4 linked regions of the Homo sapiens genome follow. The protein of the gene in region 2 interacts with the protein of the main gene of each other region in a pairwise test. Each region holds a gene or a part of one and is shown on either strand. Other genes may lie near its edges.

Region 1 (4,019 bases), on a different chromosome or scaffold from region 2:
CACCTGACCTACTAGAAAACCATAATACATCATATTCTGAAATGATAGAACTCTTAAAATACAAAAGTGACATTCTGACAACCCAGAAGAGGCTGAACTTAAATCAAATGGAAACATCCTTTGGCTTCCCCTTTGAAACTTGCCTCAGTGGCATTTGGCAGTACTAGACTAACTTCCTACCCCGTACTTTTCAGTCATTTCCTTTAAGGGGTCTCAAAGAAATTATGAAACCTGCAAAGCCAGACTTTGCCAGTCAACACTAACTTCTGCCTGTGGATTCCAGTGACTGAGCCAAGACAGTGTTAGTAGCTTCCTTGAAGTACAAATGTTCCTGGTAAATCTGGCTTGAAAATACCACAGAAAAAGTTCAACATAACCAACTGTAAGAACATTTAAATGCCAATCTTAAGGAAAGAATGGATTCCCTCCCCCTACAAATTCCACTGAGGCAAATTTCCAGCTTACTTTTTAGAAGCAAATAAATACTACTACTATTACATTACAGCACTTCTACCATGCTAATAAAAAGCTAGGTGATAGTTTCCTCTTTAAAACCTGTACATTCACTACATGAGACACTATAACCACTTCACTACATGCAACTTTCCATACATATAACTGTTCTACTTTCCAATTATTTATTTTAAACTCAAGATCTCTTTTAACATACTATAGAAAGGGAACAGGTTAGAAGGCTTTGGGAAAAAAAATAAAATAACGAACATCTCACTTTCATTTTCTGATGCAACCACCAAAATCTAAAATGTAAGGACAACTATATAGTACAAAATTAAATTTAAGAGAATTTAGAGTAAGTGAAACTATTCACTATTACTACAGTTCTGATTATTATTTACCTGAGGAAAGAGCTAGTAGAAGTGATGCTTGGTTTAAATTTTTGGTGCTTTCCAGTATGGTACCGAAGAAATAAAAACTCACAAAATAAATAAGGTCCTCAGAGTTAAAGACTTTTCCCCAGAAGAGGTTGTTGGTATAAATAAAAAAAACAAGGAATTCATATGCTGTATTTGTACACTAAGAACAATGTTTTGAGACATGTAAATCTTATCACTCAGAAAATATTTTGTTGGCTATAAAGAAAACGCATCGTAAACTGAAACAGAACTGAATAAAGTGAACCTTTACCACAATTAAAATATTTTAAATTCACCCTATTATGAAAACTTAATAATAAATTCATTTATCCTTAAGTGTAAGAGTAATACATATTCGACACAGTAAAGGACAATGCCATTTCTGAAACAAAAGATCATGTGCAATGAAAACAAAGTAACATTTTGCAGAGTAAGAAAAAGTAAAGAGCCTGTGAACCGAAACAGATGACCTTTTCTTATATATAAAGCTTCAGTTTTTAGCACAACCAGCACCTTATGAATAAAGTTCTCAATAACATTTGTTGATATACTGTTTGATGACTAAACGACAGGAATATTGTTGGTGCTGTTAAAACCAAGGCACATTTCCTTGTGTGTAGTGATTAAAATCTGTTAAATGTACATTTTTAAAAAACCTCTGCCCTCTGTCCCCTTCTTGCTCTCTTGCCTCTAACAGACCTGCACGTACAAAAATAAAAGTAGATGGTGACGTGAGTTTATGATTTACATTAATTTCCCTACTCGGAGCATTTTTCACTAAGTCTTTAGAGGTTTTAAGATTCAAACACTATGTAAGAAGAATTATGGTTTGAACTACGTAACAATTACCTAGACATCTTTTGGACTTCAGTTAACCTGTAAGTAAAATGAGCATCTTTAACTTTTCCACGGGGCTTTGGAGAACGGGTTCTTCCTCATAAACGCTTTCATATACTCAGACACGAGGCGCGGTAGAAGATCAAGCGTATCCATCAATTTGAGAGCTTTTCACGACCTCAGTTTACCCACTTAGGGAAACGGGCGTATTAACTTGTTTCCTAGGGGACCCGGGGGTGAAATTAATTAGCGTGTTTAAAATGCTCTGAGATCCAAAGATGAAAGGAAATGTGAAAGACGCGCAGAGATGATGACAACAATCATAACAATAAAAAGAATGACTAACTTGAAGTCTGCGTTATGTAAGGGAGGAAAAGAAGTTATCAGATCCGCACAAACAAAAGGGAAACCCACCGCCCCTTTTGTTTCTCCCATTTCCCTCTCCTCCCCGCCACCCGCAGAGCTCCCCTCTCGCAGCCGGAGCGCGCGGCCAGCCAGGCGCGGGGCTCGGAGTTGGCCGCCGCGCGCCCCGCTCCCGGGCGGAGGGGGAGGCCGCGTAGGGCCGGTTCCTGACAAAGGCGCTTCCTCGAGCCAGGGCGCGGGATGCAGGCGCCGCAAACTCCGCTCCCCGCCGCAGCGGGGGCGCGCAGGCGGGCGGGGAGAGCCGGCTGCTGGCCGCCGGGGAAGCCGCCGAGGAAGTTGCGCGCCCGCCCTCCCCGCGCCCCTCGGCGGCCCCGCCGCCATCCATCCCGCGGCGCCCCGCGGTCACACTTACCGGACAATTGCTGGTGGCCGGGATCCCAGAGCGGCCCCCGAGACCCGAGGCGAGAGGGTGAAGTGTTGTGCGCGGGGAGCGCGAGCAGACAGCCCGCCGTTCCGCCGCTGCCCTCCGCGCCCGCCAGCCGAGCCCAGCGAGGGGAAGTTGACCACGGAGCCGAGCGCTGAGGAGCCGCGGACGCAGGGAGAGGCGTTGGGGCTGCTTTGTGGTGCGCTCCCGGAGGGCTGGGGACCAATTCGACCGCACCGCGGGACTAGGGCTGCTGCCGCTGCTGCTAGTGGAGGCGGCGGCGGCGCCCCCCGACGGTCCCTCCGCCTCACACCGCCTCTGGGTCACTGACATACACTCGCAAGGAGGGGAGGGGTCTAGCCGGGGGGCGGGGCCTGAGGGAGGGGACCGGGCAGGGCCACAGCGGAAGGCGGTGTCGCCGCACCGAGAAGGCTCTTGGGAATTGTAGTTCTCCGGTTGAAGAAAAAAGGGATTCATTGTTGTCCAGCACCCTACCAGGCTCGCTCTGCACTGAGCATGCTCGAGGGCGAGGTTTGGACCGCCCCCTCCCACCGTTACCATGGTCACCGACACACTTAGCGAACGTGTTCAGTGCTGCTGTTGGCTGAACAAGGACGGTCTTGTATTATGGTGTTGTTGGGGATCCAACCCTTAGACGGTCCTTCCTACTTTTCTCCACCTCCAACTCCTAGCCTTACCAGTCATAAGTACCCAGTGAGGTCTGACTTTCTCTCCATATTTCAGTCTTCCCTGCTGCGTAATTTATCTTCCACAAACCCTAAATCACAAATACCTCTGTCCCTCACTTCCCTCAATTGAATCTTCTCCGGCTAAATTCAATTTTCTTTACCTAAGACTTGTCGAAATGTAGTTGTTTCCAGTAATTGAACAATTAGGTTATAAAACTTAGGAATATCACCACTATCAAAGTCCCGTAATTAATTACTTTGCTCAGTTAGTCACATCTAACTTTAAGATTAGCAAAGGCAAAGTACAGAATTAAGACCCCTATATTTTACTTGATTACTATAAAAGAATCCGGGTTCGTTCATTTTAAGGCCTACAATTTTTAAGACATACAAATTTCATAAAGTATACGTTCAAAAGACAAGTTGAAAATTGTTTATGTGTATTGGCCAACTTTAGTTTGGTAATAAGAGAAGTCTGAACCAAGGTATGAGTATGTTGTTGGGCTGGTCAGCTAAGTCTACACCCATCTTGGGCACCCAGGTGTGGAAAGGTGGTAGGGAGGAGGGTGGAGAAAGGCAGGACACATTACTGGCTCTCCGGAGAGCTAAAGGCAACGCGTCCTGAGCGCTTTTGTTTTCCTTCTCCACCTACCTAGAACCCCACACCCTGGAAGAAAAAGATTAATGCTTAGGAATCAGACACACTTTTGGAGCAAGGCTTTCAGAGAGTCTCAAGATCAGAAATCCTTATATCTACAGACTATATAATTATACACTCATTCAAAAAATGCTTGTTGAGTGTCTACTTGTGCTAGGCACTGTTTTGAGCCC
Region 2 (3,533 bases):
CTCTGCCTTGGGGGCTTAATGATTCAGCGTGGAATGAGTTTTGTTGTTAGGGTGGACAGAAAAACCCTATGGCAAAGTCACTGATTTCCCTGAGTGTGCCCTTTGGAATCCCACAAGTCTTATCCCCCATTACCCCTCCACTCAACCTGACATGGCCCTATGGGAATGGAAGCGCTTGCCTCCATCTATCTTAATCTAATTACCTAGTCCTTAGAGGAATGTACTCCATAAAAATTCAGAGATGTTTAACTGGAATTGGCCATTTCTTCTGAGCTGAGAACTGTGGCTTTTTAGGAGGATTATTCAGAAACGAACAGCAATATTAATTAGTTTAGTTCCCACAGCATGGTTTCTTTTGAGAAGCATGCTGGTTTTTTGTTTTTTTTCATTTTTTTTTTTTTTTTCTATTCTGAGGAAAGGTCCTTTTTCTGAGTTGGTCATATGGACACCACCTGCGGGGGCTGCCTACCCACCCCACTGCTGGGCTCCCTCAGGACCCATTCCTCCTGTTCTCTCATGTCTCCTTTCGCAGCTTCAAAAGCAGCTCTGTTCTTGGTTCTGTGCCCCACCTTGTTCTAATCTCAACTGTCTTTGTTCACTGTGGGCACAAAGGGCTAGGAAGGGGCAGTGTCACTGCTGTCACTTCTTTATGGGGCAAGAAGCAGTCTGGATGCTTTCTTTTGTGCACAGTTTAGCTTCTTTGTTCATCGGACTTTGTTTGCCTTCTCAGCAATCTCATTGTTACATGATTAGAAATGGAAAGAGGTCATTTTGACTGTCTTATCGAAAGGGATAGGGAAAATGACCGTATTTATCGTATCTCTTTACCTCTGTGGATTCTTTCCTGGGCCTTTCCTATTGATATTTGGTTTATTTTGGGGACGTCAACATTGCTCAGCCCACCCATTCTTACAGAAAGCTTTAAGGGAAGAAAGCCTTAAGGGAACTCTTCTCTGTATGTTTCACATACTAATCTTCCCCTTCCTTTATGCTTTTTTTTTTTTAAATAAAAAAAAAAAAACTCATTACTATAGGGAATTCAATTGGCAGCCTTTTTCTAGGTATTTATAATCCACGTCTGAGAATCCCAAAGGAAAAGAGACCTATATCAGAAAATTTAGCTTAAAGTATTTATTTGGACAACCTTTGCATGTTTATTTTCTAAAGGTAGGAAATTTATTTCTACAGATTTACCTTCAGCTTTTTTAAAAAATTGGCATTGTTATGTCATTAACAGCTATATACATGTACTTTTTTCAAAACAACATTTACGGCCTAACTTGAATTTTTTCTGTTATTCATTAGTGTATACATTTTTCTCCTTTTGAAATATGTAGTTCTAGTTTATTGGATATTGAAAAAAAAATCTGTGATTTATCATTGTAATTTAAGTTCACTATCTCTTTTCCAGCAATTATTCTTTTTTCTTTTTTGTACAGTAGTAGAAAACGAAATCCAAGCAAGCATAGACCAGATATTCAGCCGTCTAGAACGTCTGGAGATTTTGTCCAGCAAGGAGCCCCCTAACAAAAGGCAAAATGCCAGACTGTAAGTGCTGACCTCTGACATGGCTCTGATACTCCAGGCCCATCAAGACAGGCTTTTCTCCCTGGGGGAGGTGATAGAATATTCTGAAAACCAACGTACATGTTGAAAAACTATGACTATGCAAAGAAAAAGCCCCCTCAAAGGGCACAATTCTATCTGAGTGATGCCGCTCAAAATAAATAGCCTGTGAGGTTTGTGACTCAGAAACCTTGTGACCCCTTACCTCTTTGGTGTCATTTTGAAATTTTGCCTCCAGTTCTGTTTTTTGACTAGATCCATAGCCACCTGAAGCCTAATGTTGCCATGGAGTTTTGTTCTGCTCTTTGGTTCCTGCTGGGTTCTTCTTGGGTTGAAATGAAAAATCACTTCAATCAGTCCACCCATAATGAAATGCTGATCTAATGTTTGATACTCCAGCATGAAATTAAAATGAAACCACCCTTGCCACCTCCACCCCCAGCGCCTGTTTCCAAAAGTTTTATGAAACTTTGTGGATGCTTTACCTCAAAGATGCCCTTGGGCTTCTTCCAGGAGAGCCATATAATCCATAGAAGGTCAAGAAGAGGTCAGTGAGCCTGCTTCCTGTCCCCTGTTCTCTGTCATGCATCCAGAATCAGAGCAACAGATTCTGAAGTCAAGCTGCTGGAATCTTGTGTGCTACCATCTCACTTTAACCACAAGTTTCTTCTTGACTTTCAACATCGTTGATCAAAATTAGATCTTGTGGTGAGGGGGTATAGTGTGGGGTGGTGTAGGGAGAAGTAAGGAAACGCCGTCTTTCCTCAGTACAAAGCCTGGCCCCCTCAGATTCTGCTGCCCTGAGTTCCTGGAATTTAATCTCTCTCTCCATCAATTCCAGTCGGGTTGACCAGTTAAAGTATGATGTCCAGCACCTGCAGACTGCGCTCAGAAACTTCCAGCATCGGCGCCATGCAAGGGAGCAGCAGGAGAGACAGCGAGAAGAGCTTCTGTCTCGAACCTTCACCACTAACGTAAGCCAGGCCCGTGGTGAGGGTCGGCCTGCACTTGACAGATCGTGGGGGCTGGAGTTCAGATCTCTGAGCGCCATCTGTTTTGGGGGTGTCTGAAGAAGACTGATGATGAGGAAACCAACTGGAAATGACAGGAACTTTGTGCATTGCCACAGAGACTAGACCTAGACAGAGAATCCCTTTTTCTAAGACAAAAACCTGAAGAGGAAGCAGTTAAATTGAAGGGGAATAGGCAGAGGTGAAAATTACCTGGTTGGGCTGGTCTGAGACAGAAAGGTGGAAGTTCACATGGTGGAAACGTTTTTCTGATCAGATAGAGACAGATGATTAGAACTTAGGCCATTTGTAGAGAAGGCAGCATTTCAAAGCTGCCTGCGGGCAGTTGCCATTGTGCCGAGTATGTGTGTGGCTCCAGTGTCAGGTGCATTAAGATGTTTTTGCCCCTAGTCTGAGCAGCAATTTGGAGGAATTTGTTAACAGATGTTTAGGGTTAGATGGACTGCTTGCCTGAGTCTGTCTGAAAGTGTGTTGGTTTGCATGTTTGATTTTTCAGAACCCATTGTCCCTGCCCTTTAGTCTTAACCAGATCATTTCCTGCACATGGCTGTAGAACATACTGGCCTTTTCTGTGTCCTGCATAATATATTCCACTAAATGAAGTGTGCTTTGGCTTTTTGTATTTTGTTTTTTTACAGAGGATTATTTTCTAAAGAGATGTTAGCTTTCTAAGCCAGTTGTTAAAATTCACATCATTTCCTGCTTTGTAGATGTTTAACCCTCAATGCTGCATCCTTGCTTTGCAATAAATTTTCCCAAGTGTTTCAGGCTGTGCCAACATAGTTTTTGCTTCCCCAGACTAAGCAGTCAAGTTACAGTGTTTAACAGTTCAAAAATTTAATGAACTATAAGACACACTAAAAGATGTTTGGATTTTAGATCGTTATAATGTAGTATTCAGGCCTTTTTTAGGCCAAGGATGATCGCTTGGGATTA
Region 3 (3,533 bases), on a different chromosome or scaffold from region 2:
CACAAACATGATCATGGGTTAGAAGAATCAGTATCATTAAAATGACCATACTACTCAAAGAAATCTGCAGATGCAATTCCTATAAAAATACTAACATTGTTTTTCACAATATTAGAAAAAACAATCCTAAAATACCCAAGGAACCAGAAAAGAGCCTGAATGGCCAAAGCAATGGTAAGCAAAAAGAACAATACTTGAGGCATCAAATTACTTGACTTCAAATTGTACTATAAGGCTATAACAACCAAAACTATTATAAAAAGAGACACACAGGTCAATGAAACAGCTTACAGAACCCAAATTAAAGACACATGCCTACAGGCAAATGATCTTCTTCAAAGTCAACAAAAACATACACTAGTGGAAGAACACCCTATTCTATACATGATACTTGGGAGAATTGGGTAACCATATACAGTAGAATGACACTGGACCCATATCTCTCACCATATACAAAAATCAACTTAAGATGGATTAAAGACCTGAAAGTATAAAGACCTGAAAGATCTGAAACTATAAAGATTCTAGAAGAAAACCTAGGAAAAACTCTTCTGGACATTGGCCTAAGGCAAAGAATTCATGCCTAGGACCTCAAAAGGAAAGCTACAAAAATGAAAATAGACAAATGGGACTTAATTAAAATAAAAAGCTTCTACACAGCAAATAAATAATCAACAGAGAAAACAGACAATCTACAGAACAGGAGAAAATATCTGCAGACTATGCATCTTACAAAAAGCTAATTTGTAGACTCTACAAAGAACTCAACAAGAAAAAAATAACCTTTTTAAAAAATGGGCAAAGGGCATGAACACATATTTTGCAAAAGATGACATACAAATGGCCAAGAAACATTTAAAAAGTTAGAAATGCAAATAAAAGCGATGAAATACCATTTCACACCAGTCAGAATGGCTATTACTCAGGTGTCAAAAAAATCAATAACAGATGTTGGCAAGGATGCAGATAAAAGGGAATGCTCACAGACTGTTGTTGGGAGTGTAAACTAGTACAGCTGCTATGGAAAACAATATGGAGACTTCTCAAAGAACTAATAGAAATACCATTTGATCCAGTGATCCCACTACTGGGGATCTACGCAAAGGGAAAGAAATCATTATATCAAAAAGATACCTGTACTCAAATATTTATTGCAGGACTACTCACAATAGCAAAGACATAAAATCAATCTAAGTGCCCATCAACGGATGATTGGATAAAGTAATCCACATCATGGAATACTACTCAGCTATAAAAAAAGAATGAATTCATGTTTTTTTGTAGCAACATGGATAGAACTGGAGGTAACTATCTTAAGTGAAATAACTCAGAAAGAGCAAGTCAAATATCACATATTCTCACTTACAGGTGGGAGCTGAAAAATATGTACACAGGGGCATAGAGAGTGGAATAATAACATTGGAGACTCAGAAAGGTGGGAGGATGGGAGTGGGTGAGGGATGAGAAATTACCTCATGGGTGCTTATGTGCACTATTCAGGTGGTGTAACAACACTGCACTTGTACTAAATCTATAAATAATAACAATATGAGAAACTGGGTGTCAGGTATATGAAAATACTCCATCCTAGCTTAACAATTTTTCTGTAAATCTAAAACTAGTCTGAAATAAACTTTTACTTAAAAATGAAACTGGGCCAGGTGCAGTGGCTCACACTTGCAGTCCCAGCAATTTGGGAGGCCAAGATGGGAGGATTGCTTAAGCCCAGGAGTTTGAGACCAGCCTGGGCAATAGCAAGACCCCGACTCTACAAAATGAAAGAAAAACTTATCCAGGCATGGTCTATAGTGCCAGCTACTTGGGAGGTTGAGGCAGGAGGATCATTTGAGCCCAGGAGTTCGTGGCTGCGGTATGCTGTGATCACGCCACTGTATGCTAGCCTGGGCAACAGAGCAAGATCTGTACTCAAAAATAAGTAAAAAATAATAACAAAAATGAAAATAAAACTGACCGAAGTGAGGGAGAAAAGCAAACTCAGAATAGTCACACATGCCAACAATGACAGAAAAGAGGACTAAAACTGTCATTATAGCTGTTATTTCATATACTAAAAAAGTTGCATAGAGACATGGAAGATATAAAAAAGATCCAAAACAAATGTCTAGTGATAAAACATGTCTGAGATGAAAAACACACTAGACGGAATTACTGGCAGATTAGATATTGAAAAAGAAAATATTAATGAAATTATAAACAAAGTAATTGGAATATCCAAAATAAAATGCAGAAAGAAAAAATAACCTTAAAAAATTAAAAGTGCAGCAGTGGACAACTTTAAGCCAGTCAATGTGTATACTGGAGTCCCCAAAGAAAGAATGGGGGGACAGAAAAAGTATCTGAAGAATAGCCAAAAAGCTCCAAATTCTATGAAAATTGTAAACCCACTGATCCACAAGCACAACTTCAGAATACAAGAAACAAATAAAAAATATTTTTTAAATAAAGCTGAAAGAAGTCATTGTCAGCCAACTCACATTATAAGAAATGCTAAAGTCCTTTAGACAAAAGAAAAATGATAGATGGAAATACACCAGAAATGGTAATTATCTGAGTAAACAGATCTTTATTATTATTTAAAAGAAAAGTATTTAAAGAGAAAGTATTTTTTTAAATATATTCTAGGGTTTAAAATTTATTAAAAGACAATAATGAAAAGGCCAGAAGGAAAGAAATGAAAGTATACTATTGTAAGGTTCTCATACTGTATTTGAAATAAAAGATCATCTCCACAGTGACATGACCCATATCACTGAAACTGAATTCATATTCACTCATTCATTCATTCATCAACTGTATTGAGTACTGTATAAAAGTCATTAACCCTCTGTAGAAGTTATGGGCTTCAGCGAGGGTGTGTTAACAGATTAGACTAAGCAAACAGGTGGATTATTTGAGTCTAGGTAAAATGCAAGGGTTCACTCTTCTTATGGGACTCAGTAGGAATAATATCTCCCAAGCACAGGAGGATCAGAAATCATAGCAAAAGATTTTGGGTTGAACCTGTGCCAGGAAAAACTGCATAAATAAAAATGGGCTCCACTGGACAAAAATTTACCTTTCAAATCAAACCTGATACCACAATTGAGACCCTAGAAACACAACCACTATTTTCATCCTGTGCCATTGCTGCTGAAGCTCTCACGGGGCCCTGCAAGTTCCTGGTTCAACTGCTCTTCCACTACTGCCACCTCATCTGGGCTCCACGACACCCTGAACTGTCAGGCTGCCACTGGGTGTTCAAACCATCCCCACACTAAGGTAAGACAGAATGGTTTCTCTTTCTTCCCAATACCAATAAAAATCCCCATTCTACAAATAATTGATTAATGCTATTTATTTAGACCTTAAAAATCCCATCAAATAGATAAATTCAATAAGGCTTTATTAAATAACCACCTACAGTAAACCTGCAGTGAGGGTGTATATCAAAAAGAATCTCCCTTCCTGGCCTAACTGTTGGACATTTTCCTTTTTCTATTCCAAACAAGTTTGTATAGCTTCCCCATGTACAC
Region 4 (3,533 bases), on a different chromosome or scaffold from region 2:
ACAAAAAAAATTAGCCAGGCTTGGTGGCGCCCACCTGCAATCCCAGCTACTCAGAAGGCTGAGACAGGAGAATCACTTGAACCCAGGAGGTGGAGGTTGCCGTGAGCTGAGATCGTGCCATTGCACTCCAGCCTGGGCGACAGAGGGAGACTTCGTCTCAAACAAAACAAAACAAAACAAAACAAAAAAAAGAGATACTCAAACTGTATTATCAAATAATTAATGATGTAACCTTTCCAGAAGTTGAAAGTGAGCCGCTTACTCCTAATATTATAGTCATCCCTGGGTCTTTGATTACTAGAAAGGCTGAGATACAAAGGACTCTGTAGTATTATAAGATTTACAGTATGTTATACTAGTAATAAGTAACATAAGAGGTATTATGGGTACTCTGAAATGTAGCCACAAATTTGGTGTTAGAGACCTGAGTTCAAGTGCCAGATTTGCCATTTCTAAGCTATATGGCACATTACTTTTCAGAATTTCATGAATGAAATAGGATAATAACAATAGCTACTCTAAAGGGATATAATGAAAATTAAATAAGGTTTCAATGAGCTGGGATCATGCCACTGCAGTCTAGCCTGGGTTGACAGCATGAGGCTGTTTAAAAAAAAAAAAAAAAATTAACCATAGCATTTTTCTGCTTAAAATCCTTATAGAGAATCAAGTCTCAATTTGGCAGCCCCCACTTCTGCCACTCCCAGGAAGCCTGCCATGCCGAGGATTCCTTCCATGCCGAGTACTCCTTCAGCCCTTCACAACCATCCCCGGCTACTTTTTATACAGGCTCCTCTACCAGAACTTCTCTTTATCAGCTCTGTAGTGCCTGTATCAAATGTGTTGGGCACACAGTAGGCTTCTTTACTGAAAGAAACAACAAACATTTTCTGAACCCCATTTGCTGAGTAAATACTAAGTAAAATTAAAATACATAACTTTAGATTGAGAAAGTACTATAATGAAGCTAATTTATATAAATCTTCACATCAAAATAGTTCATATTAAAGAATGTAATTATATCCATATATATCAAATTGGCTGAAGTTTTCTGAAAAAGCTTACATGCTCATGGTTTCAAGGTACTAATTAACAGAAAGACTTTCAAAACTGAAATAGGGGTCTCAGCAGCTCGGGCAGCGGGAGGAGTGCCAGTAGCCAGGCAGCCCAGCTTCGCGAAGGCTCTCAGCTCCGTGGCCCACAGGTGCCCAGCAAGTGCCCCTCCTGCCGCCAAGATGCCCAAGAGGAAGGTCAGTTCAGCCGAAGGGGTGGCGAAGCAAGAGCCCAAGAGGAGATCTGCGCACTTGTCAGCTAAACCTGCTCCTGCAAAAGTGGAAATGAAGCCAAAGAGGCATCAGGAAAGGCTAAATCTTCAGATTAAAAAAAAAAAAAAAATGCAAACAAATGGGAAAAGGGGAGCATAGGGAAAACAGGCCAAAGTGGCTAACCAAGAAACTAAATAAGATTTACCTGCAGAAAACGAAGAAACTAAAACCGAGGAGACTCCAACCTTTGATGAAGCAGGAGAGAAAGAAGCCAAGTCTGATTAATATCATATACCATGTCTTATCAGTAGTCCCTGTCTCCCTTCTTGTACAATCCAGGGTATTTTTATCAACTGCTTTGTAAGTGCAAGTCTTTTAGTAGCTCTAGAAACATTTTAAGTAGCAGGAACTCCCACCTCATTCCATTGTTAAGTTTTTTCTGAGGTGAAATAATTCTCTGGTTGTTTATTTTTTGGTGAAACCAGAGAATAGTATGGGATATTGAATTACAGGAAGTTTTGACTGTCTTGGATGTCAGCTTAACATTCCACAGATGGGGGCTTAGTTTTTATATACTGTAATACAAAATATACTAAATGGCAATACAGAGTCAGAATCCTGCATTTAATGTCTTGAACATTTTAAATTACTTCTATTGCCATGTTTTTTTTTTTTTTTCACAGAATTGTTTCCTAAAGAAAACCACTCCTTGATCATGGCTCTCCCTGTCAGAACTGTGTACACTATAACATCTTTGGTCACAGAAGTCCTGATTTCCTAATAACTGTGTTAATGTGCTGTGAAAGATTGAAAATTTGGGTATATAGTGTACATGCTATTAAACTGTGAATTGGTAGAACGTGTACAGCTTATCAAACACTTGTAGATACTGGCTCTTGATAATCCTCTTAAGAAAAATTTGCCTCCAAATGTTAAGTTGGAATGTCACTATAATAACTATTTAAAAAAGAGGCCGGGTGCAGTGGTTCACACCTATAATCACAGCACTTTGGGTGGCCAAGGTGGGAGAATTACTTGAGCCCAGGAGATTGAGACATGCCTGGTCAACATGGTGAGACCTTGTCTCTACAAATTAAAAAAAAAAATTAGCCAGGCATCGTGGCATGCACCTCCCAGTTACTTGGGAGGCTGAAGTGGGAGGATCGGTTGAGCCCGGGCAGTCAAGGCTGCAGTGAGCCGTGATCACTCCTCTGCACTCCAGCCTAGGCAATAGAGAGAGACCGTTTCAGAAAAAGGAATTACAATAGAGGTTTTCTAGATTTTTGGTATGTATGTTAAGAATTGTGTACAATTTGAAATGTCTGTATACTTATTCTCAACACGACAAATAAAATCTCCATTACAAAAGAAAAAACTGAAATAATTCTTAGTAAAAACAAAAAAAAATCAAAGGTAGAGATTAAGGGATCCAAAGGTCTGTTTTACATCACTTTAGCTATCTGCCGAAACAAGTGAAGACTTCCATACTCCAGAAGCTAATAATTAATATTGTTCAAGTCAACACAATGTATATAATAGATCTCCTAAGTGAGAATATGAGAATATCTTATCTCAGAATTCCTTTTTATATAACGGATATACAAATTAATATATCAGAAATACTGGTCAGGCACAATGGCTTATGCCTGTAATCCCAGTACTTTGGGAGGCCAAGACAGGAGGACTGTTTGAGCCCAGGAGTTTGAGACCAACCTGGGCAATATGGTGAGATCCTGTCTCTATTTAAAAAAAAAAAAAATCAGAAATATAAGCATCATGGCATTAGGGAGGATTGAACTTAGAAAACATTTAAATTCTGAATCTTTCCTGAATGACATTATCACAATCATTTGAACACCTACAAGTCTAAACTTCCTCATCTTTTAACTAAGGAAGACAATACTTTCAATATGATAATTAGATAAAAGCTATTCCTTTTTTTTTAGAGACGGAGTCTCATTCTGTCACCCAGGCTGGAGTGTGCAGTGGCGAGATCTCCACTCACTGCAACCTCTGCCTCCTGGGTGCAAGCAATTCTCCTGCCTCAGCCTCCCAAGTAGCTGGGATTACAGGAGTCTGCCACCATGCCTGGCTAATTTTTTGTATTTTTAGTAGAGACAGGGTTTCACTATGTTGGCCAGGCTCATCTCGAACTCCTGACCTCAACTGATCCATCCACCACGGCCACCCAAAGTGCAGGGATTACAGGTGCGAGCCATCATGCCTGGCCCATAAAAGCTGTTTCTAACTTCAAAAATATTATGCAAG

Evidence for each region. Proteins that work in one complex are often made in the same cells at the same time.
Region 1: the proteins of GOSR2 (region 2) and PELI1 interact in binary tests that used the Homo sapiens proteins (3 or more experiments, as listed by UniProt).
Region 3: the proteins of GOSR2 (region 2) and MARCHF8 interact in binary tests that used the Homo sapiens proteins (3 or more experiments, as listed by UniProt).
Region 4: the proteins of GOSR2 (region 2) and ARL13B interact in binary tests that used the Homo sapiens proteins (3 or more experiments, as listed by UniProt).

Annotation. Positions count from the first base shown.
Region 1 is NC_000002.12:64,141,594-64,145,612, forward strand, and holds the start of PELI1 (E3 ubiquitin-protein ligase pellino homolog 1), read right to left. Parts: upstream 2,828-4,019; 5' UTR 2,488-2,827; intron 1,934-2,487; exon of another isoform or gene 1,725-1,933; intron 1-1,724. UniProt on the Homo sapiens protein: E3 ubiquitin ligase catalyzing the covalent attachment of ubiquitin moieties onto substrate proteins. Involved in the TLR and IL-1 signaling pathways via interaction with the complex containing IRAK kinases and TRAF6.
Region 2 is NC_000017.11:46,929,660-46,933,192, forward strand, and holds part of GOSR2 (Golgi SNAP receptor complex member 2), read left to right. Parts: intron 1-1,439; coding exon 1,440-1,548; intron 1,549-2,407; coding exon 2,408-2,540; intron 2,541-3,533. UniProt on the Homo sapiens protein: Involved in transport of proteins from the cis/medial-Golgi to the trans-Golgi network.
Region 3 is NC_000010.11:45,528,845-45,532,377, forward strand, and holds part of MARCHF8 (E3 ubiquitin-protein ligase MARCHF8), read right to left. Parts: intron 1-3,533. UniProt on the Homo sapiens protein: E3 ubiquitin-protein ligase that plays several important roles in innate immunity and adaptive immunity.
Region 4 is NC_000003.12:93,986,649-93,990,181, reverse strand, and holds part of ARL13B (ADP-ribosylation factor-like protein 13B), read right to left. Parts: intron 2,237-3,533; exon of another isoform or gene 1,120-2,236; intron 1-1,119. UniProt on the Homo sapiens protein: Cilium-specific protein required to control the microtubule-based, ciliary axoneme structure. May act by maintaining the association between IFT subcomplexes A and B. Binds GTP but is not able to hydrolyze fit; the GTPase activity remains unclear.